Linked DNA regions of Homo sapiens: all the other regions are linked to region 1. Evidence: fine-mapped expression QTL. A gene starts in region 1. Each other region holds a variant in brackets. All regions are shown on one strand. Distances are between the middles of the regions.

The links.
Region 2: its variant is fine-mapped to the expression of PRXL2A in whole blood (INTERVAL, PIP above 0.99).
Region 3: its variant is fine-mapped to the expression of PRXL2A in whole blood (INTERVAL, PIP above 0.99).
Region 4: its variant is fine-mapped to the expression of PRXL2A in whole blood (TOPMed, PIP 0.96).

What each region holds. Positions count from the first base shown.
Region 1 is chr10:80,405,398-80,413,085 of GRCh38, reverse strand. PRXL2A (peroxiredoxin like 2A) reads right to left here and starts at 4,535. Exons shown (of 6, transcript NM_032333.5): 1 at 4,443-4,535. RefSeq lists enhancers at 2,242-2,741, 3,588-4,181 and a silencer at 4,467-4,756.
Region 2 is chr10:80,439,730-80,447,417 of GRCh38, reverse strand. No RefSeq gene overlaps it. Among named protein-coding and RNA genes, the nearest start is that of TSPAN14, 11 kb to the left of the region's middle. The variant C/T (reference allele first, on the strand shown) is at 3,491.
Region 3 is chr10:80,245,087-80,251,190 of GRCh38, reverse strand. It overlaps LOC100130698 (a long non-coding RNA gene), which reads right to left and starts at 3,433. Exons shown (of 6, transcript NR_136612.1): 1 at 3,354-3,433; 2 at 2,419-2,520; 3 at 1,668-1,728; 4 at 1,520-1,557; 5 at 1,390-1,451. It also overlaps the pseudogene EIF5AP4. The variant T/C (reference allele first, on the strand shown) is at 2,482.
Region 4 is chr10:80,431,151-80,438,838 of GRCh38, reverse strand. PRXL2A (peroxiredoxin like 2A) reads right to left here. Exons shown (of 6, transcript NM_032333.5): 6 at 1,724-6,853. The coding sequence ends at 6,740. Among named protein-coding and RNA genes, the nearest start is that of TSPAN14, 19 kb to the left of the region's middle. The variant C/T (reference allele first, on the strand shown) is at 4,591.

The DNA.
Region 1 (7,688 bases):
CTACATCGACTCAGGAAGTTCTGTCCATCTTCTAAAATGTATCTGCTACCCATCCTCTTCTCGACCTCACTGCTGCTGCCCAAACCCAGGATCCTATAACTCTGTCCCTAGCCTATTTCAAGAACCACAGAATGAATCTGGCTTGGTTCTAGTCTGGTCCTCTATAGTTTATTTTCCAAGCCGTAGTCAGAGCGATCCCAGCACACCCCCACCTGATTACACCTTTCCCTTGTGTTCAGACTCTCACTAACAATAAACTCCTCAGCAAGCCAGCTGATGGGGCCCTCCACAGCTTGGCTTCAGCAAGTGTTGCTCATGTTGTTTCCTTTGCCCGGGATGCCCCCCTCTGACCCAGGCCAACCACGTAAATGCCTACTTATTCATAAGGCCCAGCACACATAACACTTCCTCTCCAAAGCCTTTCCTGAAAGCCCTGACAACTGACTGCTCACTGACCTCTTCTATAGCGTGCATGTGTGTGCGCACACACCCATAACCCTGCACAATGCACAAATGAATTGTGTAAATTTTAGTTATTTACATGTCTGTCTCCACAATATGTTGGCACAATGTGTTGTCGTCTTCATTCCTGCATCCCCAGCACTCAACACAGATCCTGGTAATTATCAGGCATTAAATGTTAATTAAATTATCTGAATTTTACTCTTAGAATTCCACAGTGAGGCAGACTTGGAACTTATAACTACTCAATTCCAATTTCAGTTCAGTATGAAAGGCAATTTTGGACAGGGCTGGCTTGATATTAAAGAAAACACTCTAGCTTGGGACTTAGGTAACCTTAGGCTGGGTCCTCGCTCTACTGCTCACTAGCAGGGCAATCTGACTTAAGGTATGAAGACACTCGGGGCCTGGATCTCATCATCTATACAGAGGAAGGAACTCAAAATTCTATGAGGTTGTCTTAGCTCTGACATCCAAAGACTCTAAAGTACCATGTGACTGCAACTACAGGGATCTGATGTCTAGAAAGCCATGGGAACCCCTGCCACCACTGTTCTTCTGCTGGGTGTGCACATTCACCCTGCCTCCTTTGCTGGGCCTAACTCCTGACTGTTCCAGGAGCTGCCTCTGGGCAGGAACTGATAAAGTCTTAATGAAACAAAGTATCAGCACTGGCTGAGTTAAATCATGTCTGAAACAAGTAGAGACAGCATCATATTCTAAACATCAAGGGTACACCTGCCCAGCCCAGCCCCACCCAGGGAATCGTCCCTCTTCAGAATGAGCTGGCCTGAGGCAGAGATAGGGGAGAAGCAAGAAAAGGTGCTGAGGGAGACAAAAAACTAAGAGTGCACATGGGCCTCCTTGCCTCAGGCCCTCAGTGAACAAGTCTTGAAAGGATGCTTCATCTTCCTTCTCTGGTCTCCTCTGTTTCCCTCTCCTTCCCTCAAAGCGCTGGTTCAGCTCATTTTACTGAGCAAATGAAGAAACTAAAGCTCAGAGAAGGAGCTGGCTAGTCCAAGGTCACATGGGCAGGGCAGGTTGTCAGTGGCTGCACTGGGACTCAGGTTTGGGTCTCCCAACTTCCAGTCCATGACTGTTTATCCTGCATCAGACACGCTAGGTCCTGGGCAGCCAGCCAAGGGCCAGTGGCCTCTAAGGCTGGAATAGCATGGCAGTCTGGGCTCAGGAAGTGGGGCCCTGCAGGTCTTGAAGCCTGTTCACTGGCCTCAGGCAAGCTAAGAGCAAGACTGCCCGTAAACAGGGCCTGGGAAATCTGCTGCCTGGAGAGAACATCATCAGCCTCTCCCAAGCCCAATCCTTGGTAAGCAGCTTATAATCTGAAGCCAAATGTCTTAAGGGTCTCATTGCCTAGTCTCCGCTGAGAAGCCATTCTGCACCTCTCTTCCCCACAATAACAAGACTCTGTCCATCCTTGTCTAGCATACTGATGATGCAGGCACACAGAGCCTTATGAGCAACAGATGCCCTTCCACCCACCCTTGTCTTCATATACCACAAAATCAGTCACTTGCAATGAGCTCTCACCTACCTGCCTCAGTCTCCAACTCTCAGCCCTGCTCCTTGGGGTGTGTATCTGCCTGGTTCTGGCCCAGTCCTACTCTCAAATGCCAGATTCAGAAACCTCTGAATAGATGCTGAAAGCAGCACCAGCCCCCACATTCCTCACTCTTGGGCGTATCTCAGGGTTTCCCAGTAGCTGATTATGTCCTCTTGTTTCCTCAAGCTGTAGGGCCCCCCACCCCTCAAAGAGCAAGCCATTCTAATCTCACTTGCACAGCCTCCTGTCTGGGCTCAGAACTCCGGCTTCATCAAGTTATATGGGTGTGGATAGGAAGGCAAGGCAATACCACAGAAGACACTGGGCTAAAAGCCAATAATCCTGGGTTTTCTCTCTTTGACTCTGAGAGTTATTTTATCCCTCTGAACCTCAGTGTCTTCTTAAAAACAAGGGCACTTTAAAGAGTTGTCATAAAGATTATATAAGAAGAGCAATTTTTAATGCGGTAACGCACTAGAAAACGGCAAAGCAGCATTATCTTTCTCTCTTTTGCAGGGCTCAGATTCACTCGTGCCCCTATAAAGACAGGATATCTGAAGCAGGACAGGCACAAAATAGTGAACTTCTGCAGCTGTGTCACTGCAGGCCTGCTTTCTGGTGAACGTTCTAGGTCTGGTGGGAACACTGGCTTGTCTCAGCCCCTCTGGCCTGCAGGCCCGCTCCATGCTATTCCTGTAGCAGCTAACACTGCCTCCTGCACTAGCAGTGCCAGAGAAGGCAAAGGACACTGCCCAGCTGTAATTTCCCTGTGCCAGAGGCCACTGAGCTCAAAGGTGAGGCTGGCTCTCTGCACAGAACCTCAGGATGGTTCTTGCCACACAAGCCACAGCAGAGAGACTTGGAGCTTCTGCTCAACATTTCACAAAGAAGCAAGAACCCAACTGGCAGGACAGCTGCCCTATTGCTTAGATAGGGACAGAGCCTGGGGCTTGAGCCCTAGAGTTCCAGTCCTATCCAAACTTTCTGAGCACCATTTAAATGACACGAGATGAGAAAATCATCAGAAATGTCTTTTGTACCCCTTCAGAAGTAATGCAGAAGGTCTCAACTAAATGACATGCTCTTATAAAAGACGGGGATATAGGAAAGGCCCACACCAAGAATAATATCTAACTTTAATTCTTGCAAGCTGTATAAACCTGGACAAGGAACTGTTTTGCATCAGTAAAATGGGAATGCTTCCTTAATTACCTTCTACAGAGTTGCAAGAATCAAAGGATTAAATGTATAGGAGGTGCCTTGTGAGGTACCTTACAAAAAGTGCAATAAATACGATGTATAATTCTTCATTTCTAGAGCAATGATTACCCTCAAAACGTTATTTGTACACAAAATGAAGAGTTTTCTGATGAATGAGTATGGTAACGAGTCGGGGTCTGCAGTGGAAATCCCAATCCTCATTCTCCAAAGCTGGGCCCGAGCAGGAGCATTCAAGACTATTCAAGCTGACTTTTTCACAATGCTTTTCAAAACAAATCTTGATTATTTTCTTTTTGAAAAACCACCTGCCAGGTTCAAAGGAAAATACATTAAAATAAAACAAACAAAAAAGCTGAGTTCTGGGTTGCTGGGCTGTGCAGACAGCATGATGTGGCAAGGAAAAGAGGCGCAGGAGCAGCTGGGAACCCCGGTCCGGCAGTGGACTCCCGGGTGTGCCTCCTTCCCACAGCCCTGGACCGGCTGGGCCTTGACTTCCCTTCCTTTGCCTCTAACCATCTCCACCTGCGCCTTCACCTCCCGCTCCAGCAACAACCCTGGGGGCAGATTGTTCATCTTTTCATTCCTAGACCTCAGCAGGGCTGTTAAGTTTACAACTGGGCTCTACCCAATTTAAAGTCAGGCGTTTGTGACTCTTGGGAAAGAGGGGGAACAGGTGCCTCCGAAACGCTGAACAACGCTAGAAACCGTGCCCTCTTAAAAGACACGACCCTAAGCGGGCACAGAGACGAGGACGAGGACTGCCAGGTCCGCACCTGGGGCTGGTCCAGCAGGGCGGCCCCCGGGCCCATGCTCCAGGGCAGGGCCCTCTCCTCTGTTCTTTGTCCCAACAATTCGCGAAGGTTGGCGCCACCGGCGTCACTCAAGGCTTGCGGGCGTGGACAGAGGGGGCCCTAGCCCGCCGCAGCAGCGCCGGGTCCCCGTCTCCGTTCTCCGACGTCTGGGCGCAGGGTTTTTCCATCGGCCGCCACGCAGGGTGGCGGAAGGGTCGTCGTCCTCGGAGGGAGCGCCAGCGCTGCGGCGGCTCCTAAGAAAGTTGGCGCGGGCCCGAGGGGCGCGCCTCACCAGCCCAGCACCCACCCTACCGGCCCTGCACTGCCTCAGTTTCCCCACCTACGCCGCGGCAGGCCCCGCCTACGGACATCACGTGCCTCGCGGAGCCCCGGCGCGCAGCACCTACCTCAAGTGCCTCCCTTCTGCCGGCCTTTTACCGCCCCGACGCCCGGGCGCTAAGGGGCCAAACCGCCCGGCCCGGAGGGTCCCAGGGGCGGGCCCCGCGCTTGCGCAGCCTCTAGCCTGTGCTGCATCGCGCGCTACCGCGCCACCGCCATGTGACCCGCCCCGCCCCCCGTGGGAGGAGCTCCGGGCCTGCCCCCGACTCGCCGACCTCCGGGCCGCGGTCTCCTAGCTCCGGTGGCGCTCGGGCGTGTGCCCCAGCGGTCCTTTTACGCACAGCGCTCGGTCGGTCCACTCCTCAAGTCCGCGAACCGAGGCCCCGACGCGTTCTTCAGGGCGCTGCCTAGGGCAAAAGAAGGCGCTGGACACCCCTAATGGAGCCTGGAAGCACCTGTCCTGCAGCCGAGGCTGGCCAACTTCCTTCCAATCTTCAGCCTGGTTTTGAATAGCTCTTTTGATAGGTTTTTTTTTTTTTTTTAACCTCCATGGGCAGGGGGAATCTAAAGGACCGACACATTCGATGAGCCCCTTCAAGCTGTATGTACAGATTCAGAATTTCCAACCTCAATCCTCCACCCACGTTCCCTTTCACTCCACAATGCCAGCTATGGGGCAGAGAACGGTGAGCCGCAGCCTTGCGGACTCCGGGCGACGCTGAGGCGGGTGTGTCACACACCGCTCATCCACTTACTCCTCCTGTTGGAAGTGCCCACTCTTTCATGAAAGTAGGAGGTTGTGTCCGGCGCGCTGGCTCACGCCTGTAATCTCAGGGCTTTGGGAGGATCGCTTGAGCCCAGGAGTTCAAGACCAGTCTGGGCACCATAGTAAGACTCCATCTCTACGTAAAAAACAAAAACTAGCCAGGCATAGTGGCGCGTGCCTGTATTTCCAGCTACTCTGGAGCTGAGGTGGGAGGATCGCTTGAACCCGGGAGGCGGAGGTTGCAGTGAGCCCAGATCGCGCCACTGCACTCCAGCCTGTCTTTAAAAAACAAAAAAAAGACCCTGTCTTAACAACAAAAAACAAAAAGTAGGAGGTTGGACTTTCAGAGACAGCAGAGCTGACTCACGATACATATTAGTGGTTGGCCGGGCTCGGTGTCTCATGCCTGTAATCCCAACACTTTGGGAAGCCAAGGCGGGCAGATCACTTGAGGGCAGGAGTTCGAGACCAGCCTGACCAACATGGCAAAACCTCGTCTCTACTAAAAATACAAAAATTAGCCGGGTGTGGTGGCGCGCACCCGTAGTCCCAGCTACTCAAGAGGCTGAGGCAGGAGAATAGCTTGAACCCCGGAGGTGGAGGTTGCAGTGAGCCGAGATGGTGCCACTACACTCCAGCCTGGGTGACAGAGTGAGATTCCGTCTCAAAAAAAAAAAAAAAAGACATATCGGTGACACAGTGCAAAGACCAGTCACAGGGCAGCATAAGGTGAAGTGGCAAAGCAGGCCGATGTCCGCCCGTCAAAGGTGGTCATTTGCCTGCAACACCTTCCCCCCTTCATCTGGGAGCTGCCCACAGGTGTACAAAGTCCAAAGGCTTCCGTGATTCACCTCCCTGACTTCCCACTCAGACTCCATGTTCCATGTAAACTTACAGCAACACTTGGGGAGCTTGATCTATTCAAGGGGGTCTCTCCTCAACCAAACTGTGAATTCCTCCACTTCACCTCTGGGACCCTAGAGCCTGGCCCAGGGACAGCGTGGAAATAAACTTAGAAAACGTGAGAGGTGGATCTAAGTTGTGGGGTAAGGGAGATCAGCCTGAGTGCCCATGCAGTTTTCCTGCAGGAGTTAGGCATATGATTTGAAGGCCAGAAAATATTTCGTATACTTTGGTGCAATGCGGGTGTAGTTTTATATATATATATATATATATATATATATATATGATATATAAGATATATATAAGATATATATGAGATATATAAGATATATATGATATATGTATAAGATATGTATGATACATATATCTCTCTCCAGAGGACCTTTCTTTCTTCTCCCTTGTTTCTCCTTACCTTGTGAAGAGGAGCGGGAGAAGGGTCAATCTTTCCATCCCAAAATAGGAAGTTCAAAGGTGAGGAGGGTTTGCAGGGAAGGCCACTTAGAACAAAACAGGAAGTCATTTCCTTGGGAAATGAGTTCTTGGAGACTGACCATTAATGACAGAGCCATTCAGGGGTTGAGGATAGCAGAATTCTGGGGTGGAAGGTCCCCTGAGGCTTTAACTGTGATGTAATTACTAATCACGTGCAAAAGTCATGCTTATATTTACACTTCGGTAACATCCTGAAGATCTGGACTTCAAAAACCAGGCTACATCTGATAGCTAATTAATATGCTCCTCACATGCCCACGTTTCTTTTTGTACAAGAAAGCACAGGCTGAACTCATTAAAAAACAGTCATTAGACCAGAAAAATAAGTTACAGGCAAGCAGGCGCAGGAAAACTTATTTACAAAGCTCAAGGACTAAAACCAAAAACCAAACCAAAACAAAAAACCTGAAGAATAAACCAAGAAAACCCACCAACCTGCCCAGCTTTTAAGAGAAAAATAATTTAAATTTTGTAAAGATTGTAAAATAGCCTTAGGTTCTGAATTTCAGGTGGTAGAAATTAAGGTTGACTAGAAGCTTTGTGATAACTTTAGATAATGTTACCATCTTGACAGGGGCTGGGAAACTTTTCTGTCCCTCACAAGTCCCATAGGGCAGGCAGAAAACACTGCTTGCAGGAGGCAGATCTGGGTAAAGACTCCTGACTTTTTCAGCGTCATAGCACTTCTAGATTCAGCTGGCTTCAGCTTCGTCTGCTACTCAGCAGTGACTGAAGTAACATGATCTTTTTAAGCTTATGGCCCTGTGGTGTCTGGGCTCGCTGGGAACAGTCAGGAAGCAGCTAGCATCAAGATGAAAATAGAGCAAAAACTGATACTTCACTTCAATATGTCAGGCCCAGGTTACCATTCTGTGGATGGGTAAAAGCGAAATCAAGAACAAGACTTGTATGTGAATCTCAAAAATAGATGTGCATAGATCAGCTTCAAATATTTTCTCTATATGCCAATATCCCTGAATTCAGCTCTTTCTTATTTGTTTTAAGCATAAAAAATCCTATACTTCCACAGTGTGTCTCAAAGCAAAGCAAAGTCAATAGGGACCTCTTTCTAAAACCTTCCATAAATGTGGCCAATGGTTTACCAGGTGAACCGATGGCTGACTGAGGGCTAGATGGTGGTATTATTCTGCCC
Region 2 (7,688 bases), 34 kb before region 1:
GCAGAGGGACCAAAGAGACTGAGGAAGACTGTCCAGTGAGGTAGGAGAAAAGCCAAGAGGGTGGAATGGATGGAAGTCCAGGGGCAACAAGTGTTTCAAGAAGAGGGGAGTGGTCCAGTTTCCAGGGCTGCAGAGGGCCAGTGAAACAAGGCTGAAGAGCAACCATGGGGTTAATAGCTTCAGAGAACTGTTTCAGTGGAGAATTGGGTCAAAGACAGTTAACAGTGGGCTGAACAGCAATTGGAAAATGAGAGAGAGGTTGTTAACTGGAAGATGATGAGGATAAGCAGTTGCAGGAGGGTGTTTGTTTAAGAAAGGAGAGACTTGGGCCAGGCACGATGGCTCATGCTTGTAATACCAGCACTTTGGGAGGCCCAGGTGGGAGAATCGCTTCAGCCCAGGAGTTCCAGGTGAGCCTGGGCAACATAGTGAAACCCTGTTTCTATTAAAAGAAAATAACAAGAAAAACAAAGGAGAGACTCAAATATGTTTAAATGATGAAGGGAGAAGGCAAGAGAAGAGGGGAGATAAGAGAGTCTGAAGGAAGAGAGAAAACGCTTGCTGGAGAAGGTGGGAAGGATTGGTGTTCAGAACAAGAGGAGAGCCCCAAACTGGAGGACAGCAGGACCTTCATAGAGACAGGAGGCAGGAAGACAAGCTGGGTGAGGATGCAGATGTTTGTGGGTTCGGTGGGGCTTCCTAAGGGAAGGGGTCCACTTTCTCTGGAAGTAGAATGGGCACCTGCTGAAGGTTAAGTGGGTGTTGGGTGGGATCCAAGGATTTCAGAGAAACCTAGGAGAGAACGAGAGACACCTCTGAGCAGGGGCAAGCAGGAATGTTTGGGGAAGGGTTGCAAGCCCAGCTGCAAATGGAGACCCAGAGTGAGAGTGACACACATCTCAGATTACATGACCTTTTTCATCAGTACTCAGCAGCTGGAGTATGTGCAAGTGCAGAGAGCACAGACAGCAGGATTGATCAAAATCTGGGGTTTGCCGGGAGAGCATGATAGAAAAACAATGGTGCAAAGGATTCCAGAAGGTTGGAAATAAAGCAGTTGAGGTGTTGTATCCTGAGGCTTGGCTACTAGGGGAGAGAAGTGACAGCTGGAGGGGCTAGTAGATAGGGGGAAAGAAGATGAGGCTGCGGCTGGAGGGCCCTCAGCATGTGAAGAAGGGAGATACGGTGACACAAGGCTGTGGTCAGACAGAGGTGTGTATCCATGGGACCAGGTGATTGAGATGGAAGAAACGGAGAAACAAATGGCCCTGAGGGTGAGGAGGTCAGGACCAAGAGGCTAGTGGGAAGATGGGTCACTCCATCAGTATATGGCAGGACTTGGAGTGCAGGCAATGGCAATGGGTTAGGCGCCAACATCTTTGGTAGAACTTTTACTTCAAGGTCAGTTTTGCACTGGTGTTGCCTTTCTTGAAGAAAGAGGTTAGGGAGCCTTGGGGAAAAGAGAACAGAAAGGAAATTTATTTCTTGGCCTGTCATTCTATACTTGGCCTATTTGTTCCAGAACAATCTATTTTAAGGAATCTGCAAACTTCTAGGAGGTTTCTACTCTTATTTGCATCTACAGCCTCAGCCATGGGACCTCTGCCTGCCAGTGGCGTCCCCTGCAAAGAATTAGGACTAAGATTTGTGATAGGAGCCCATGTGTGAGGATAAGACACAGTGGAACACCCTTTAATTATAGCATCTGAGACTGTCTAAGCAGATGGTGGTGACAAGGAGTCCTGTCATCTCTCTGCCCTCAGTTGTTCCATTTCATAAACTGAAGGTGGCAGAGAAAGAAAGGTTGTTCAACAGGTGACATCCCACGGCCCTTTCAGCCCTGTGCATCAACCACACTGTAATGACTCCACATGGGAGAAGAAAGTTTTGCCAAAGAAGAAAACCCCAGATGTGGCCAAATAAGACATCAAGGGAGGGAGCAGATCCTAGATGTTAAGAGCAAGTATAATACCAGGAATCGGACTGCACGGGCTAAGTCCCAACTCTGCCCCTGAAAGCTAGGTCCACTCAGGCCGGAGAGCTGCTCATGTCTACCCAGGGAACTATGGGATCTGTGCAGATGTCAAAGCCACTTGACAGCACAGAGTGTTACTTCTGGAATAATGTCATGCAAACTGACCTTCACAAAGCTCTGACTTAGTAACATAAATGTGGAAAGGGGGCTCAGAGGGAATCACCTAGCTGATAAGTGGTAGAAGCAGGACTGTCAGCTTTATGACCACACCTGAGTCCCCAGTCTGTCTCAATCTCACACCTAGAGATTTGAGGGTCGGCTAAGGCCCTGGGACCTCTAGGCGCAGACACTGCTAGGAGAGCCACTGAAAGTTCCCCCTACCACTACAAAGTAGGGGAGAGAGGCACACCTAGACTCATCTGAGACAGAGCAGAAAACAGATGGATGTTGCAAACATCACAGGTACCTCTCCCTGTCCCTGTCACACAGCTTTGGGGAGTTTTAGTTGGTTCCATGGAGAATCTGGTAGTCCCCGGGGAGAGCTGCGCAGCAGTTGATGCCGCGTGCATACACTGCCACCTAGAGGCAGTCTGAGGAAACTCCAAGTTTATTAAACCACGGGTGTGTGTGTGTGTGTGCGTGTGTGTCAGTCTGTCTTTCTGTGTGTTGGGGGAGGAAGGGAGGGCTTTTCAGTCCTTGTCTGGCACTGCTGATTCTCTCTTTCCTGGAGCCCTTGGCTCTCTTCCTCTACCCACTCGGGACCACGTGTCCTGCACGCAGCTCCTCCTCAGTCTCTTTGCAGATCCTGCTCCCCATTTCCTACAAATGCTACTTTTCCCAGATGCTGGGAACATCTAACACCATTTTCTTCCCCCTCTCATCTCCACAGGCTCTCTGCCCTCTGTGCCACTCTGTGTCTTTAGAATCCTCTGTGCACCGCCCCCACCCATCTTTGTGGCCAGATCCCTCTCCTGAGCTCCGGTTCCCCCTCCCTCACACTAGAAAGAAAATCTGATCCCATCAGTCCTCCTCCTGCAAACCCTTAGAGGTTCATTTCATGAACACAGCTCCTTCCATTGTTCTACAGGGATTAACCAGGCCTGGCCTCTGAGTGGGCTGCTCCAACCATATTCTGACCACAGGCCTGCCTCACACACAGTGACCTAGCCTGTCACCTCTGGTTTGTGACCACCTAGACCACACTTCAGGACCCACTGTGTTAGATTAGATCACTCACTTGGAATTGCCCCTGGCAGAAGGAAGCTGCCCCCCACCAGGGCTCTGCCCCACCCCCATCCCTGGTGCAGGGTGCAGCCTATGTCCACTAAACGAGTGATGGGTGGGAGTTACAAAGCCCCTTGTCTCATTTCGGGGCATCTGCTGGGTGATCTCAACTCAGAGCTCCTGTGGGATCAGTTGAGGCCTCACAGCTCCATGTCGCCCTCCACTCAGTCCTGCTCCCCTCACTTCTTGCATACACATTTCTGGACCAGCTTCTATTTCCTGTGCACTTGG[C/T]ACATGCCATCACTTTGGCTTAGAACAGCTTTTGAGTTATTTTCCTTTGCCTGTCTGAGCACAGGAAGTAGAAAGCCACCCAGCACAACCTTGCAGCCAGGCCCTTAGGAGAACTGGCCAGCAGAGGTCAGGATCTAGTACTGCCTCCACGTCACCCACTCTCTATTCTCACTGAGACATTGGTATCTCATTTATCTCCACAGTGCCAGCAACTTCTGGCCAGCTTCCCCTCAGGGCTCCTCCCTGCCTTCTGCCGGTCAGCTGTCACCATCTGCGCCCCTTCTGGGGAAAAACTTTGTACAGGTTTTACAGGTCCCTGGCTAGTTCACAGAGGCCTGAGTTAGGGTCCAGGGTCCACCCCGGTCCAGTCGATGTGCCCAGGACCGGGGTTTGTGGTGCAGACCGTGGAGAGTCTGGGTGCCTCCAATGGAAGGTGTGGCATGGCCAACTCTGAGGTCCCCAGGATGGGACAGCAACATCTGGGCACATAATGTCTTGCCACCTGCTGCTAAGGCTGCTAACTGCAAATAATAAAGAAGCAAATTTAGAACCACATATTAGCATTTGTAACTGGTTTTAGTATGCATATACAGATCCAGTTTTGTAATGATTATATTATTATTTGTCAATTTTTAAAGGCGTTTTAAACATTTATGAGACTGAGTCATTACAGTTGGGAAGAGTGTAACTGATTACATTTAATGTTTAAATGCTCAAGGAAAATCTACTTTCTAAAAATTATCATCAACTGAAGAATGACGAGGTTCATAAATTTGGCTCTCTTGAGTCATGAAGGCTGGGGAAAGATGAGAGTCCGATAAGGGCAGCCCAGAGCTCTGCATGGCAGAGACTTTAAAGACTTCCTGCTTCAAGCAGCACCCGCTTTCCCAGGAGCTGGCTGTGCTTTGGCCCCCAGGCTCCACACCCTAGCCCCTCCTGGCCAGAGGCATCTGGCCTCCTCCTGCCTCTGTGTATAAGCAGTGCTGGGGTGAGAGCTTAGCAGCAGAACTGGCCTTCTCTCCCCCTGAGGAAGCCTAGCACAGTCATGAAGGGCACAAGGGAGGGCCAATAACAGCTGGGTCCACTGGCTCAGGAAGATTGGCACCCCCCAGGACACTTAGCTGGATTTGTGTCCCTTTCCAGGCTCCTGCCCATACAGGCCCATGAGATTTCCTATGCTCCTTGAATCAAATGGATTTCTTACAGTTCTATGTGGCCTGAGTTTCACAACACAAATAGCCCTCTCTGAGGGGCTAAGGGTGAGGGCACAAAACTTCTTGTCAGTGAACTAGCTAGAGAGGTTTACCAAGCACGCAGTATGGTGCATTTTTATTACTCTGTTAAAAGTGTGTGATTAGTTAATATACTCATATGGAACAGATTATAAAAGTTCAAAAGGGTATTAAAAGGGACATTCTCCTTTATGTCCCCAATCACCAGTATCCTGTTCCTAGAGCAAATACTGTTACAAGTTTTCATGTATTTTCTCATAAATATATTATGGCAGACACTGCTGGTTTTTGTTTTTTTCCCCAAATCCATTCTTTCTTCTTCGTCATCATCTTTTGTTTTGTTTTCTTTTGTTTTTTGAGGAGTCTTGCTCTGTCACCCAGGCTGGAGCACAGTGGCACAATCTTAGTTCACTGCAGCCTCCGCCTCCCGGGTTAAAGTGATTCTCCTGCCTCAGCCTCCCAAGTAGCTGGGATTACAGGTGTGCGCCACCACGCTTGGCTAATTTTTGTATTTTTAGTAGAGATAGGGTTTCACCATGTTGGCCAACTGGTCTTGAACTCTTGACCTCGGGTGATCTGCCCCTTGGCCTCCCAAAGTGCTGGGATTATAGGCGTGAGCCGCCTCTCCGGGCCTGAAGGGCATTCTTTCATAGCAGGGACAGGAACAAGCCCAGGCTGTTCTGGCCAGTTCCTCCTGACCTCAGGCTATTGCATTCCCAGCACATTCTACAGTTATTCTTGAGAACTACAGTGAGAAAGCTGGGAGAACTGGGTCAGTCCAAGGCCATCTGGAGAACTGCTCTGTAGTCCATCCGAAACCCAGATATCCCCCTTAGCGAAGCTGGTCAATTTCATATCCCACCAACCTCCCTGGATTTGGAGGCAGGGGTTTGGTCTGTCTCATTAGTTCGAGAACACTTTAACTGACACAATCCCAGTGAGACATCATTAAGCCATAGCCAGAATCCATTTCACGAGGCCCAGGAGGACCCCTACAACTGCAGAATAACCAGGGCTGCCTGGAGCATGACCTAGCCTTGGACACAGCGATCCAGTTAAGAAGTCGCTATGGAAGTCTAAGAAGGATCCTTCAGGTGGCCCCACTGTCTGCAGCCAGTGGGCCTGCTCCTGAATTTTTTCTGCTTGTGAGGGTCTGCTCCTGAATTTCTTCTACTTGTGTGTCTTTTCTTTCCTTTTTTTTTTTTTTTGTTTTTGAGATGGAGTTTTGCTCTTGTCGCCCAGGCTGGAGTGCAATGGCACAATCTTGGCTCACTGCTCACTGCAACCTCCACCGCCCGCGGTTCAAGCAATTCTCCCACCTCAGCCTCCTGAGTAACTGGGATTACAGGCACCTACCACCATGCCTGGCTAATTTTTGTATTTTTAGTAGAGATGGGGTTTCACCATGTTGGCCAGGTTGGTCTCTAACTCCTGACCAAAGGTGATCCGTCCACCTTGGCCTCCCAAAGTGCTAGGATTACAGGTGTGAGCCACCGCGCCCAGCCTACTTGTGTTTCTATGAAATCTGATGTGCTTATCCAGGTACAGCAGGAGGTGTTAACAATTGCACACACTCCTCCCACTTGGGCTAAAAGAAAGTCTAGAGCAATATTGGTATGTAAAACAATCTTCCCAAGAGAAATGAAGGATGTCTGCAGGGCTGCCAAAACAGTGGCTGTGAAGGAGGCAACATCTGCCATGGTCAGGGACAGATTTCTTATCATTCTTTTATGAGCACTGACTCCTAGGTAGGTACCAAAGAGCTCATAAAGAACATGAACCCAGAGTCAGTTACACCTCCTGGCAGGCTCCCTAGTCAGCCTGGTGTATAGCTTTAGGCTGCTAGCCCAGTGGTGCATCTCATTTCCAGGGGTGATATCCAATGGCACCCCCAGCCCATCTAATGTGCAGAATTTCACCATCCACTAGCATTCTACTCTCTGCTTTTATGGGTTCCTTTTTTTTTTTTTTTTTTTTTTTTTGAGATGGAGCCTCACTCTGTCGCCCAGGCTGGAGTGTAATGGTGTGGTCTTGGCTCACTGCAACTTCCACCTCCCAGGTTCAAGCAATTCTCCCACCTCAGCCTCCCAAGCAGCTGGGATTACAGGTGCCCGCCACCAAGCCTGGCTAATTTTTCTATTTTTAGTACAAAAATACAAAAGAGATGGGTTTCACCATGTTGGCCAGGCTGGTCTCGAACTCTTGACCTCAGGTGATCCACCCGCCTCAGCCTCCCAAAGTGCTGGGATTACAGGCATGGGCCACCGCGCCTGGCCTATGGGTTCAATTTTTGAAAAAAAAAAAAAAAAAATTCCACAAATAAGTGAAGCCAGGCACAGAAAGACAGATACTGCATGATCTCACTTAACGTATGGCCTCCAGGTTCACCCATGTTGTCACAAATGACAGAATTTCCTTATTTTATTATTTTTTAAAGATGGGGTGTGGCTATGTTGCCCAAGCTGGTCTCAAACTCTTGGGCTCCAGCAATCCTCCCATCTCAGCCTCCTGGGTAGCTGGAACTACATGTGCACTAACACACCCAGTGTTAGATTTCCTTCTTTTTAAAAGCTGAAAAGTACTCCTTTGTGTACATATGCCACATTTTCTTTATCCATTCATCCATTGATGTATACTTATCTTGGCTATTGTGAATAATGTGCTGCAAAGAACGTGAGCATGCAGGTATCTCTTCAACATACTGGTTTCATTTCCTTTGGGTAAATACCCAGTAGTGGGATTGCTGGATCATATAAGAACTCTATATTAAGGAACTCTATACTGTCTTCCATAATGGCTGTACTAATTTACATTCCTGCCAACAGTGTGTAAGGGTTCCCTTTTCTCCACATCCTTTCCAACGTTTGTTTCTTTTGTGTGTTTGTTTTTGTTGTGAGACAGAGTCTCGCTCTGTTGGCCAGGCTGGAGTGCAGTAGCATGATCTCGGCTCACTGCAACCTCCACCT
Region 3 (6,104 bases), 160 kb after region 1:
AGGGCACATTTTCTATTAAAATATGGAACCTCTGACACTTAGAATATTAGATCAAGGGCAACACTGGGTGAGGGTGGGGGCGTTTTTGCTCAACACAGTTAACAACAGAGATGGGACTGTGATGAATTATGGAATTGACTTTGCCAAAGAACATTCAAAATTGCACAAAGCACATATTAATGTTGGATCAATGAGTTTTCACTTCTGGGATTACGGCGGATATTCTGAAGGTTAATCACTTACCTCATAGCAGAAAAGAAAATCACAGCAAAAAAAAAAAAAAAGGAAGCCCCACATATTTTGGAAAGGGGATCCCACACCATCTTGAGTAAAAGGGATCAGTCAGGGTCTACTGGGCCATAAGACCTACCTCAGTGGAGTTCAATGGCATCCTCTCATGTTATTTCTGGAAACAGAACAGTGACAGCCCTGCAGCCCTTGGCCCTTAAGCATTTATGGCTTCTGGAGGTGCCACCAAAGATGACCAGCTGGAAATGGAGAAGCCTGAAAGCTCATGGGGAAGATTTTGCTTTCAAAAAAGTCCAGTTAGAAAAGGCACCACAGAACCCAGAGAGCAGAGGACAGGCCAGGAGAGGGCGCTGTAGGAAAAGACAAAACTGTCCTGAACTAGGCAGAGGGAAAATGACTCCAGCATTTACCTTTGTCTTCTCTGTTTTCTGGCTATGTCTTCTGATTCTTTAAGAAAAGAAGAAATATTGATCCATGAAGACATAGCCAGAAAATTTCTGCTCTCATCAGCACTTATGGCTCCCATTCTAAAATGTTATTAGTGTTACTTTTCTCAAATAATAATAAAAAAAATAAAGCCTTCCCACTGACTCAAGGTTGGAAGGGGAGCTGACCCATTTGCCTTCTAGGCTCATCCCCTCAGTTAAAAGTAACCAAGACATCAGGGTGGAATGATGTCCACAGTCAGTGGAGGGGCCTGTGCTCCGCTATTCACAGGGGACCAGCCAAGAGTCATTCAGCTGTGGCACGTGAGAAAAACGGTCCTGCCACCCAGCGGGATAACTGTTCTCTTTAGTAAGTGCTTGGAACTGTTTCCAGGAAACATAACAATTACCCAACCCAAGCCCTCACCCCAGAAAGGAGAAGCAGGGGTGTGGATTGTGGAGCAGAAGTTAAGTGGGTGCCTTCCCAGAGAGCTCCTACCTCTCCAGAAAGGGTTCTCTAGCCCTAGCTGTCCCTGGGCTGCCTCCTGACTCATGTGTCTCTCCAGCACTCCCTGCTTTTCCATCATTTCCTGTCTTGAAGACAGTGAAAGAGTTGACTTGTAGAAGAATTAAAACACTGTTTTCTTTACTAGACAGTCAAAGCTTCATCTTAAAACAAAAACATCCTTAAAATTTGTCCATCACAATCACCTACCTGTGCTGCTTGCCGGCAGCCTTCCTCTCTGCCATCTCCCTCTGCAAGGCTTGAGCACAGAGCTGTGGGGAGAAAAATACATCCATGTCCCGACTTGGCCGAAAAGCAAGGGAAAAATGAACAAACTTACCCAGTTGTTGAGGCCTTTCTTGCAGCAGAAGGGGCGATCTGAAAAAGCCAACACATGAGAAAATGTATGTTGACAGATTCTAGGGGCAGTGGCATCATCTTGATGAGCGTTTAAGGATCCTGCAACTGCAGGAAGGAAGGCTCCTTACCTCTCATCTGTAGGAGTCCTCTACCAACTGCTGCAGCTCTTGTCTGTCTTGAATCGTTTATCTATGGTTTAGAATCACTTTCATCAGACAAAGCATCATCTTTAGTATGATTTTAAATAATCTGCCATGTTCCTGTTGTCCTCACAATTGTACCCTTACACAATCTATCTATACATAGAAAATGTATTTCACATGGCTATAAAAGTACAGTATGATCAAAACTGTTGCTGTAATGCTTCCTCCTCTTTTACTTAATGCCTGCTGGGTTCTGAGTTGACAATTTCCTTACCCATTTTCAGTATGTCCCTAATTCATGCTTCATTGGGCATCTTTTATCATAAAGCTCTGTTCTCCTGGAATTAATATCCTTGCCATATTTCACAGGGCAGAAACAGCTGAGCTTATAAACAGGCACAGTCCTTTTGAAGGATGGGTTGATCCTACAACAACACACTTTCCTAAGGATGATGACAACTCGCATCACCCCTAGAACGGCTGGTATGAACCGAGTTTCCACACAGTCTGGCTGGCATTGCAGTCAGGAGATGTTTGGCTACTTCACATGTTTTGAACACTAGTAAATCTTAAGGTACGTGTGTTCTCTTGTGTGAATTGTCTCTCTCTCTAGGTATCGCTTCTGACCATTTGTTTCCATTTCTGTGTTAACTGGGTCTAAAGATTGTACAAAGATTTAAAACAAAACACTCCACCAGCGCTTCCCCAAGAGGCTGGTGTCGGTTTCTGAACCCACTTGCAGATGGGTATTTTTTCTAGAGCCAATTTCATGGTTTCTTCCACCTCTGACAGCCGCCTC[T/C]CCTTTTCTTCTCGTTCACGTTCTTTCATTCTCAGCTTCCTGAGTCGAGAAGGGAGAGAAATGCATGCACGTGATCCACTGGCCTGTGTGGGATTCCTTGTGGCATCTGAAGGCCGTGATTCAAAGGTCCCCTGACAACCTTCCCATAAATGAACCAACTGATCCTCACAACTGGAGAGAGAATTAACACCTTCCATGGGACAAAGAAAAAGCACATTCTGGCCTGCTGGCAAGTCACCTGTCGTTTCCAGCTCATCTTCATCGCTCTGTATTCCTACTCTTTAGTAAATATGAACTATTAAAAGCTTCTATGAGATGCGCTATGCGTGCTTCTGGGATCAGTCTTTTGCCTGACATAGCGAAAGCTCATTTTAGTTCAGTGTGGAAAACCAGACCTCACCAGCTCATCACAACTAAACCCATAAGGACGGAGCAGCGGATCACTCCTCGTCTGACTCCTCCCACAGGGAGACCTGATTCTCCATCAGAGGCTGATGCCAGAACCCAGACAATCAGCCTCAGAGAGATCCTTCCAGGACATGCTGTCATTAGCCCTGCGGTTCACTACTGCACATGTCCATGATTCAGGACTGGAACTCTTCTCATCGACTTTAAAGATCCTGGTTGAGAGAAAAGGCCAATCTGAGTGCTGGGTGCATCTACTGAATTGGAAATGATCCAATGGCTCTTTAGTTAGGGTGTTATGTCCTGAAAATAGGTGACAACTGCAAACCATCCTCTGGTGTCCAGAGACTTTAACAAGGTTTGTTTCACAGAGACTGAGGGCAGAAAAAAGGAAATGGCCTAAAAAGGTGGGTTTGCTGTGTTGCCTCACACTACTTGATTCATGGTTCTGATTCTAAAAATCTCACTTGATACTTGATTTCATATGAAAGACGTGTAAAATGCCTGGGTAGAGGCGGCGGCGGCGGCGGCGGCGGGCTCGGAGGCAGCGGTTGGGCTCGCGGCGAGCGGACGGGGTCGAGTCAGTGCCGTTTGCGCCAGTTGGAATCGAAGCCTCTTAAAATGGCAGATGATTTGGACTTCGAGACAGGAGATGCAGGGGCCTCAGCCACCTTCCCAATGCAGTGCTCAGCATTACGTAAGAATGGCTTTGTGGTGCTCAAAGGCTGGCCATGTAAGATCGTGGAGATGTCTGCTTCGAAGACTGGCAAGCACGGCCACGCCAAGGTCCATCTGGTTGGTATTGACATCTTTACTGGGAAGAAATATGAAGATATCTGCCCGTCAACTCATAATATGGATGTCCCCAACATCAGAAGGAATGACTTCCAGCTGATTGGCATCCAGGATGGGTACCTATCACTGCTCCAGGACAGCGGGGAGGTACCAGAGGACCTTCGTCTCCCTGAGGGAGACCTTGGCAAGGAGACTGAGCAGAAGTACGACTGTGGAGAAGAGATCCTGATCACGGTGCTGTCTGCCATGACAGAGGAGGCAGCTGTTGCAATCAAGGCCATGGCAAAATAACTGGCTCCCAAGGTGGCAGTGGTGGCAGCAGTGATCCTCCGAACCTGCAGAGGCCCCCTCCCCCAGCCTGGCCTGGCTCTGGCCTGGTCCTAGGCTGGACTCCTCCTACACAATTTATTTGACGTTTTATTTTGGTTTTCCCCACCCCCTCAATCTGTCAGGGAGCCCCTGCCCTTCACCTAGCTCCCTTGGCCAGGAGCGAGCAAAGCCGTGGCCTTGGTGAAGCTGCCCTCCTCTTCTCCCCTCACACTACAGCCCTGGTGGGGGAGAAGGGGGTGGGTGCTGCTTGTGGTTTAGTTTTTTTTTTTTTTTTTTTTTAATTCAATCTGGAATCAGAAAGCAGTGGATTCTGGCAAATGGTCCTTGTGCCCTCCCCACTCATCCTTGGTCTGGTCCCCTGTTGCCCATAGCCCTTTACCCTGAGCACCACCCAACAGACTGGGGACCAGCCCCCTCGCCTGCCTGTGTCTCTCCCCAAACCCCTTTAGATGGGGAGGGAAGAGGAGGAGAGGGGAGGGGACCTGCCCCCTCCTCAGGCATCTGGGAAGGCCCTGCCCCCATGGGCTTTACCCTTCCCTGAGGGCTCTCTCCCCGACACATTTGTTAAAATCAAACCTGAATAAAACTACAAGTTTAATATGAAAAAAAAAGAAAGAAAGAAAGACGTGTAAAATGCCAAGAACTCTAGGAAACAGGGACAAAAACACTTCAAAGAGAAAGTTCATGCACTTGTTTCTGACCACCCAGGGCACCCTTCAGCACACGGTGTCTGGAGTGGCCTGAAGCAAGGAGTGTCTTGTGAGGTGCAGAGGATGCAATGGGAGCAGGGTCCTGTCCCCACCCTAAAGGAGTTCACAGTTTAACGCAAATGAGAAGCCAGTGAGGACATCACTACTCCTGCTGTGAACTTGGGAACTAGAAACACAAAACCTGAGCCTGGAGGGAAGCTAAGGAAGCATTCTGCTCTGGAGTAGACATGAGTGCATGTGAAGCTTCTGATCTCCCATGAGAGCAATGGGGACATGGGGCAGAATCTAAAACCCATGACTGAAAGCACCAAATTGCTAAAATGGCAATAAAGAGACATGAGGCCAAGATGGAGAAGAAGGAACCCAGGACGAAGGTCAGCCTCACATTTGGGGCTCATTTCCCTCAGTTTCATCACTGAATTTCAGAAGGGACTAACTGAGATGTAAAGAAGCAGAGCAGCTTTTGCACCATGTGGAGGACTAGATGGAAAACAAGTAGACTGAGGGTCTGCTAGTGACGGTGACCCCTACTGAAGTCCACTGGCTTTGGTTGGGACCCAGAAGAGTCACACGCCAGGAATAGAGGTGGACAGGAAACACCCTGACTTTTGTAGGGACTGAACCTCACTGATAACCTCAATTGCGGATGGTATGGAGGGTGTCTAGGTGTGCTAGGACCCCTGCCCATTCCCCAGAAATAGACTCCCATCTTTTCTGCAGCAAGATAACATGCTAGTCGGCCTCAATTCATTGCTAAATATTTTTAACGAGTGTCTTACATTTAGCCAAAAAGACTAGTCATGTGGCAGGAAAAATACAATGTCATATGACCAAAAGCTAAAAGACTGTGAAAATGAATCCCGAGGTGACCCAAGCATTGAATTTAACAATGCCAGTACCTGGACCTCCGCTTGCCCCTAAAACATTACAATCAAGAATGTAGGAAGGGAAAGGAAACACGAAGATTAATCAAGCAGGAAGGACAAGCTCAGTTTTGCACCCACTGAATTTGCCACAAATATTGTGGAAAATATTCTCGGGGACATTGCAGTTGTCTACTTTGGTTGGCACATGGTTCATACAACAGTGTTTGTGTCAGTGAACATCTTACTCTTCCTCGGCAGTCTTTCTTTGCCCAGAGATTTCGCAATGACTGTTGACCTTCATCATCACCTTTTGGACTTTGGCTTGCACTTTAGCTTCTGTAGATCTCCATAATGTAAAGAGGTATTTTGGGTCCATTTTAATTCCTGCAAAGGATAAAATCCTTCTATTCGTGTGCATATAAGTGGACCTGAGCCCTTGGTTAGGGTGTAGAGAGGAGACGGGGAGAAACCTGAGGGCCAGAAGCTGTTCTTTCCCTTAAAAGGGCAAACTCATTTC
Region 4 (7,688 bases), 26 kb before region 1:
GACTTTATTCATGTTTCCTGGCTGAACACCATGGAAATTAGGGCATGGGTGTCTCTTAACTAACTTCAGAACAGACATGGACGACTACTTGGCACGAAAGGGGAAAATTCCTCTGCTTCTTAAAAGATTTCACAATTGTTTGTCAAGGTAAGGCAGTGGTCTTCCACCTTGCCTACATACTAGAATCCCCTAGGGAGCTCTAAAACATACTGATGCCTGGATCGATCCAGCCCCAGAGATTCTGGTTTAACTGGACTAGGATCTGGACTGAGCAATGGCATGTTTTTTCTTTTCGTTTTGTTTTGTTTAGTGTGAGGCTCGCAGATGGGGCTCAACCCTGACTGTAATTATTCTGTATTTGTCTTTACACTTTTACCATCTATATATGGAGCTTACACAATACTGTTTGCAAGCCTTACACATTTATGTAAACTGTATCCTACTGAATGTACATTCTGAAGCTTTTTTCCTTCCTTGTTTCGGTGCATCCAAGTTGATACTTATACCTCTCATTCATTCATTGTAACTATTATAGCACAGTAAAACCTTCTACTACCCCATCATTTTCTGCTGTAAAATGATCAAAAATTCATGAGCAGTTAGTTGTCCAGGAGAAAAATCATGAAGGTAACCCTGACTGCTCTTTTTCTTACATCCTATATCCAAATAGTTCAAGAATCCTCTTAGCTCCTCTTTCTGTCACATCCTACATCCAACAGTTAAAGAATCCTCTTAGCTCTGCCTTCAAATATATCCATCATGACGCTTCTCACTATCTTCTGTGCTCCCACCTGGTTGCCACCACCATTCTCTCTTGCCTGGATCATTGCACCAGCCTCCCAAATGGGCTCCCTGCTGCCACCTTTGATCCTCTAAAATCTATTCTCTCAAAGCAGCCAGAATAATAGAAATCAGATCATGTCACTCTTCTAAAAACCCTCTAAACGAATTCCCATCGCTCCCAGTAAAATTTAGAATTGCCTCCTATCCCCTACTGCAATAACTAGTGTGTGGGTTGACCTTGACCATCATTATATAATACAGAAAGGTGACCAGGTACAGCTGGAAGAAGCATGTCCTTGAAAGGACCTCCCCACACCTCCCTAATCCAGGGATCTAACCCACTATCATCCTCAATTGTTACTGTCTTCAAAACAAAATGACAAATCCTCCTTTAAATGTAGAAAGGATTTGAAGGGTTAAATGAGAACAAATCAACTTTCTTTCCCTTCCCCTCCCAAACATAAACTGACAAATACACACCTTCTTGCTTGCCCCATGGGGCACTGGCAACCCAGAATGGAGGGAGGGCAGCTAGTGCTGGGAAGAAACTGCAGTCTGCCCTGACTGCATCCACCCTCTATCCTCACAGCCCCTACAGCCTCTTCCCCACAGCTCACCTTCCCTGCCCTCCACTCCCCTACACTGCAATGGTATGCTTTGCTCTGGGAAAGAGAGGAAGCAGACACAGGCATTGCTTTTGAGAAATCTGCATACTGGGAGAGAGGACATAGAACCAGGTAAACAAAACAGACTAGACTCCTCCGTTTTCCCCTAGCCATGCTTCGCTATCCAAATCTCTGCCTTGGAAGTTCCTCCAGCTGGGGGTTCCCCATGCACCCCTGTCCACACCATCTGTGACCCTTGCCACTGCTAGGGCCAAGGAAAAACTCGCCCTTCACCCGCTGCAGACTTGCTGAAAAAATCACTGACAAGAGGCAAATTAACAGGAGAAAAAGCAAACAAATTTATTTGATCATAATTGTATGTGAGCCCTCAGAATGAAGACCCCAAGATACAGGGGAATTGTCCATTTTTATGTTTAGGTTCAACAGATTATGGACTGTGTAGAAATATGATTGGACAAGAAGGGTATGATCTAATAGTAATAGACTGAGAGGGGAAACCCAGCAAGGCTGTCTAGATTCTTCTTGGCCTCTCTGTGCAGGATTCCTTCCTTCTGGGCACGGGGTGGGACCCTCTCTGGAATGGGTATCTTACGACAGTCAAACACGGTAGGTCAGATCATTTCTTTCCAACCAGTTTTTACACAGAAAGGGGAATGGGGAGTGAGAGGACTATTTTTAGGTTTTATGGCTGGCTTTGGGTAAAACCGGTTCTGGTTTCTGATGACCTGCCTTGGGGAAGAGGGATTCTAGTTTCTATGGGTAGCCTTGGGGGAGAATGAAAAGCCAGAAACAAGAGGGCAGGAGAAGGTCAGAGAGAAACTTTTGCTTCTGGGGCTGCTTCTGAGGCCTTCCTTTTAAAGTTATCAGAGATGATCAGGGGCATCCTGGCTCCAGGTAAGGTCTCCTGACGTGAGTGTGCTGGTCTTCCACACTGGATGCCGAGCCTTTTAAAGGGTGGTTTTCAACCTTGGCTGCATATTGGAATCACTCCAGGAGCTTTAAGAAATATTGTTGGCCTGGTGCTGTGGCTCATGTCTGTAATCCCTGAGCTTTGGAAGGCTGAGGCAGGATGACTGCTTGAGCCCAGGAGTTCGAGACCAGCCTGTGCAAGATAGTATAAGAGCTTGCCTCTACAAAAAATTTAAAAATTTGTTGGGTGTGGTAGTCCACGCCTGTAGTCCCAGCTACTAGGGAGGCTGAGGTGGGAGGATATCACTTGAGCCCAGAAGTTAAGGCAGCAGTGAGCCATGATTGCATTACTGCACTCTAGCCTAGGTGACAAGCAAGATTCTATCTAAAAAAAAAAAAAAAAAAGTTGCTTGGGGCCTACCCCAGAGATTCTGATTTAATAATTTTTACACTGCACCCCGCCCCCAACCCCCGCACCAGGTGATTCTACTGTGTATCCGAGATTGAGAACCACCAGCTTTACAGCAAGGACATTTTCTTACGTTCTTTGAATTTTCTTGCATTTCTTTGCATGTGGATTCTCAGTTTATCAAATAAATAAAAAGGAAACCTGCAAATGCTTGTCAAAGGCTGCTGAAACTTCAAGTCCAAAGCCCACAGAGATTAATGACTTTAATCTGTATAGTCCTTTAGAACCATGCTTCTCAAAGTGTGACCCATGGACCAGCAGAACATCAAGATCACCTGGAACCTGTTAGAAATGCAGAGGCTGGCCACGTGTGGTGGCTTACACCTGTAATCTAAACACTTTGGGAGGCCAGGAGTTTGAGACCAGCCTGGGCAATACAGGGAGACCCCCATCCCTACAAAAATAAAATCTGTTGGGTACGGTGGCATCCACCTGTAAGCCCAGTAACTTGGTAGGCTGAGCCAGAACAGCTTGCAGCCAGTTTGCAGCTGCAGTGAGCCATGACTGGGGCCACTAATTACACTCTAGCCTAGGTGACAGAGCAAGACCCTGTACATAAAGAAAAAAAAAAAGCAGAAACTCAGGCCCACCCAGACTGCCCACTGGAATCTTGAGAGCTGCAAATCATTGATTTTCAGCACAAACAATTTTGCTCACCCCGGACACGGAGAGACTTGAACAAACACTAGCATAGTTTCTAGCAGCTCAAGGCCCTGTCTCAGGGATAACCCAGGCCCCTTTGGGTCCCTGCCTGGGGAAGCTCAAGGCTGCCAAAAGAATTTACCATTTGTTTCAGCCAATGCCTGATCATAGGTTTCTAATCTCCCTCGTTTTTCTTGAGATGGAGTCACACTCTGTCACCCAGGCTGAAGTGCAGTGGCGTGATCCCGGCTCACTGCACCCTCCGCCTCCTGGGTTCAAGCGATTCTCCTGCCTCAGCCACCCGAGTAGCTGGGATTACAGGTGCGCGCCACCACAACAGGCTAACTTTTGTATTTTTAGTAGAGACAGGGTTTCACCATGTTGGCCAGGCTGCTCTTGAACTCCTGACCTCAGGTGATGCACCCACCTTGGCCACCCAAAGTGCTGGGATTATAGGCATGAGCCATGGCACCCAGTCCCTCCCTCTTCTTAGAGGACATACTTTATAAAATTTACAATTGTAAATCCTTTCTGTCCCTTTGGGGGATATATGTATCTTCTGCTGCACAGGAATGTGTTTCTCACTTTTTCTGGGAGCCATCCCTTTGTCATATAATTATCAGGAATGATAAGGCCGACTCCTGGTCTCTGTGGGAGGCTAGGATCCTAACTTTGATAAATAAATTTGAGAGTTAGTAGACACAGATAGCCGAATCACATTGACCAATCTCCTTACCAGCTTTTTGTAATTTTGCACTTCCCTAGTTCTATTTGAACCTCCTCCCTCCCCTCTTTAAAATTCCATCACCTCTGCACAGATTGGAGCTAAGCTCAGTTCTATACTGAGGACTCTCTCCTTCTGCAGTAGTTATTGAGTAAAATCTGTCATTATTGCCTTTAGCGTCCAGCTTTTTAAGTCTCCATTTTAATAAGGTCCTTATGTGATGTGCATGTACATTACAGTCTGAGAAGCAGTGTCATAATATTTATCATTCCCTCAGTGACTTATCATAAACAGCCCTGAATGGGAAGGAATCACGCCCATTTTGCCAATGAGTTAGATCTTTGCTTAAGATCACACTGGTAAACTAGAAATTGATTATGCCTCATGACTCAATCCAGTGCTCTTTCCAAAATGACATGCTAATCAGAAAGAGAAGA[C/T]CACACTGCACGTGAGGACCCAGGGGAAAAAAGTTGGTGAGAGCTCACAAAAAACCAAACATGTTTCTCTTGATGCATCTCCATTGGTGCAATGTCCTCTCAGGTTTTTTTTTTTGATATGGAGTTTCGCTCTTGTTGCCCAAGCTGGAGTGCAGTGGCACGATCTCGGCTCACTGCAACCTCTGCCTCCTGGGTTCAAGCGATTCTCCTGCCTCAGCCTCCCAAGTAGCTGGGATTACAGGCATGTACCACCCCGTCTGTCTAATATTTTGTATTTTTAGTAGAGATGGGGTTTCACCATGCTGGCCAGGCTGGTCTCGAACTCCTGACCTCAAGTGATCCTTCTACCTCGACTTCCCAAAGTGCTAGGATTACAGGCGTGAGCCACCACACCTGACCTCAGGTTCTTCTTTAGTTGCAAGAGAACTGTTTCACCATCAAGTGTCTTAGGTATTAAAGTTCTAAGTTTAGGTACTGAGTTATCCTATCAGTAGCTGGAGTCCCAAGGATGACAGGTACCAACCCTGTGCAAGTACCAAAGGCTATGGCCTCAAATGCTGCAGAAGCCCAGCCCTTTAAGGGCCCATGCATACCCCATGCAACCACTGCTACATGAAGTCAGGTGCAGGCATGGTCTTAGTGGGTCTTAGTCCCGAACCACTCAACCCTAACTCACTCTGCATACTCAATCCCGATGCTCTCCTACTTTCCCAGCTTTACCTCCAACATCAGTATCCATTCTTGCTTTCCTGGGTAAACACTGATTCCTTTCTCCTCCTGGCTGGGCCAGTCCCCTGGGTAAACACTATTTCCTATTTCCACCCCCACCTTTCTACTCCTGGGCCAGTTTGATGCCTTGAGTAGACTCCCTGTGGCCGAGCTCCCTGGTAGGTCTTGATGATGTCACTCAAACTTACACGACAAAATTCAAACAAAAAAGATAAAGTTATATTTCATCATCTCTATGTCCTTTCTTCTGATTTGCCAAATTAGGCTAAAAGACCAATAGAAAAACAGCTACCAATTTTAAACACCAAAGTCATTCCTCTAGGAAAGACAGCAAAATTACTAACGTGAATGACAGGATGAATTTTTCCTGGTCATTTTCAAACCACTTAGATAGCTAGAACCAGAGGAATCCCCCGAGGCACTTTACCCCTCAGCCATGGAGAATGCTGACTTTTTTTACTTTCAGCCAATTATATGGTAAATATAATTATTAGTTTTATCAGAAAATCTTATACATACAGGTGATTTCTGATGCATAATTTTATTAAAGCCAGAGATGGACATTTTTTCTAGAGAAACAGATCTCTGAGGTTAGAATGGAAGATAATGAAACAAGAGATTTCACTTTATAATTTACCTTTGTCAAACTATCCCAGAGCATGTCAATTCTATTATGAAAGTATTACTTTGACATCATATAACCAATTATTAATAGAAAACACACATGCCAAAAAACCTTAAATTTTGTAATCTTCAAGTCAATCATCAACTTTTCTTGAATTTTTGAAGACCCGAAAAGAAAAATAATTTCAAACAACAGCACTCAAACATCATATGCATTTGTAATGAGGCACAGCAATCAATTTTTTTTTTTTTTTTTTTTTAGTTAGAGTCTCAGTCACCCAGGCTGGAATACAGTGGTGTGATCTCAGCTCACCGCAACCTCCACCTCCCAGGTTCAAGTGATTCTCCTGCCTCAGCCTCCCGGGTAGCTGGGACTACAGGTGCCTGCCACCACACCCGGGTGATTTTTGTATTTTTAGTAGAGACGGGGTTTCGCCATGTTGCTCAGGCTGGTCTCGAACTCCCGACCTCAAGTGACTTGCTCACCTTGGCCTCCCAAAGTGCTGGGATTACAGGTGTGAGCCACTGCACCCAGCCTGGCAGTCAATTTTAAGCCTCCTATTTCCCAGGTTTTAGCTTAATAATCCTCATTAGTTTTTCAGATTTTTGTCAGTCTTGTTTTGGGGCTATTTTGCCTTAGTGGGCCTAAACAGAATATTAAAATACATTAATAATCCATACTGAGAGTAGAGTATAAATGGGTTTCTCACTCCTTAGGGACACGAGTGGAAACAATACATCCCATGAACACAGGTGAATGTCCCTGGTTATCCCTGAGCTGGGCAGTTTCACACAATCATTTTTTCTCTGAGGCCAAAGTCTGTGGTTTGATCATCTTAGCAGCTTCCAGAACAGAAAGTAGGTTTACTTTGTCTCCAAATTCTTTTTCTCGGTGCTCAAGAAGAATGCCCTAAAAGGAAACAAGAGATAATGTCAGTCCTCATCCTAAATCGTTCGTTCATGAGACAGGCATCGAGGACCAGCTGTCTGTCAAGCCTTTTGCTTGAATAGCAAAGGACACAGATCCAAATATGGCCTGGCTCCTGCCCTCAAGGAGTTCAGTCTTTGAGGGAAGATAGACCGGAGAAGGCCACATCCATCTGGCCTGTACCAGCAGCTCTAGAAGCAGGAAGTCAGAAGTGATAAAGCATGACAAGGGCAATCAGGGAAGGCCTCACAGAGGCACGGAGGGTAACCAGGATGTCTACAAGTAGAGATGCAGGTAAAAGAACATACCAGGTGAAGAGAAAAAAATGAAGCTAACACAGAAAGGCCCAAAGGTGTGGAAGTGGAGCTCAGAGGTTAGACTTTGGAAGGCACTGAATGACCATCTAAAAGAGAGACCCTCATTTTTCTTTAGTCTTCTAAGAAACTGGAAGCCACTTTCTTCTCATACAGTGAAAAAAAATGCACTAAGACACAAGATACCCCAAAGTTATCTAAAGTTGGAGGTAGTAAAAAAAAGACAAAATAACATGTTTGAGATCAGCATCAAGGAATCCTTGTTAGAGTTCTTTGATTCATTACATCTGGAAACTCATCTTAAAAAGAAAATCTGTAAATACACTGTGTCATTATTTATAAAGACTTAAAAAAAAAAAAAAGGCCCACCACACTGCAGAGATTATGGGCAAGCAGATCAGAAAATTATATTTACTTGCTCAGTAAACCATAATACAGACATTAAAAATACTAATAGGCTGCGTGCTGTGGCTCACACCTGTACTCCCAGCACTTTAGGAGGC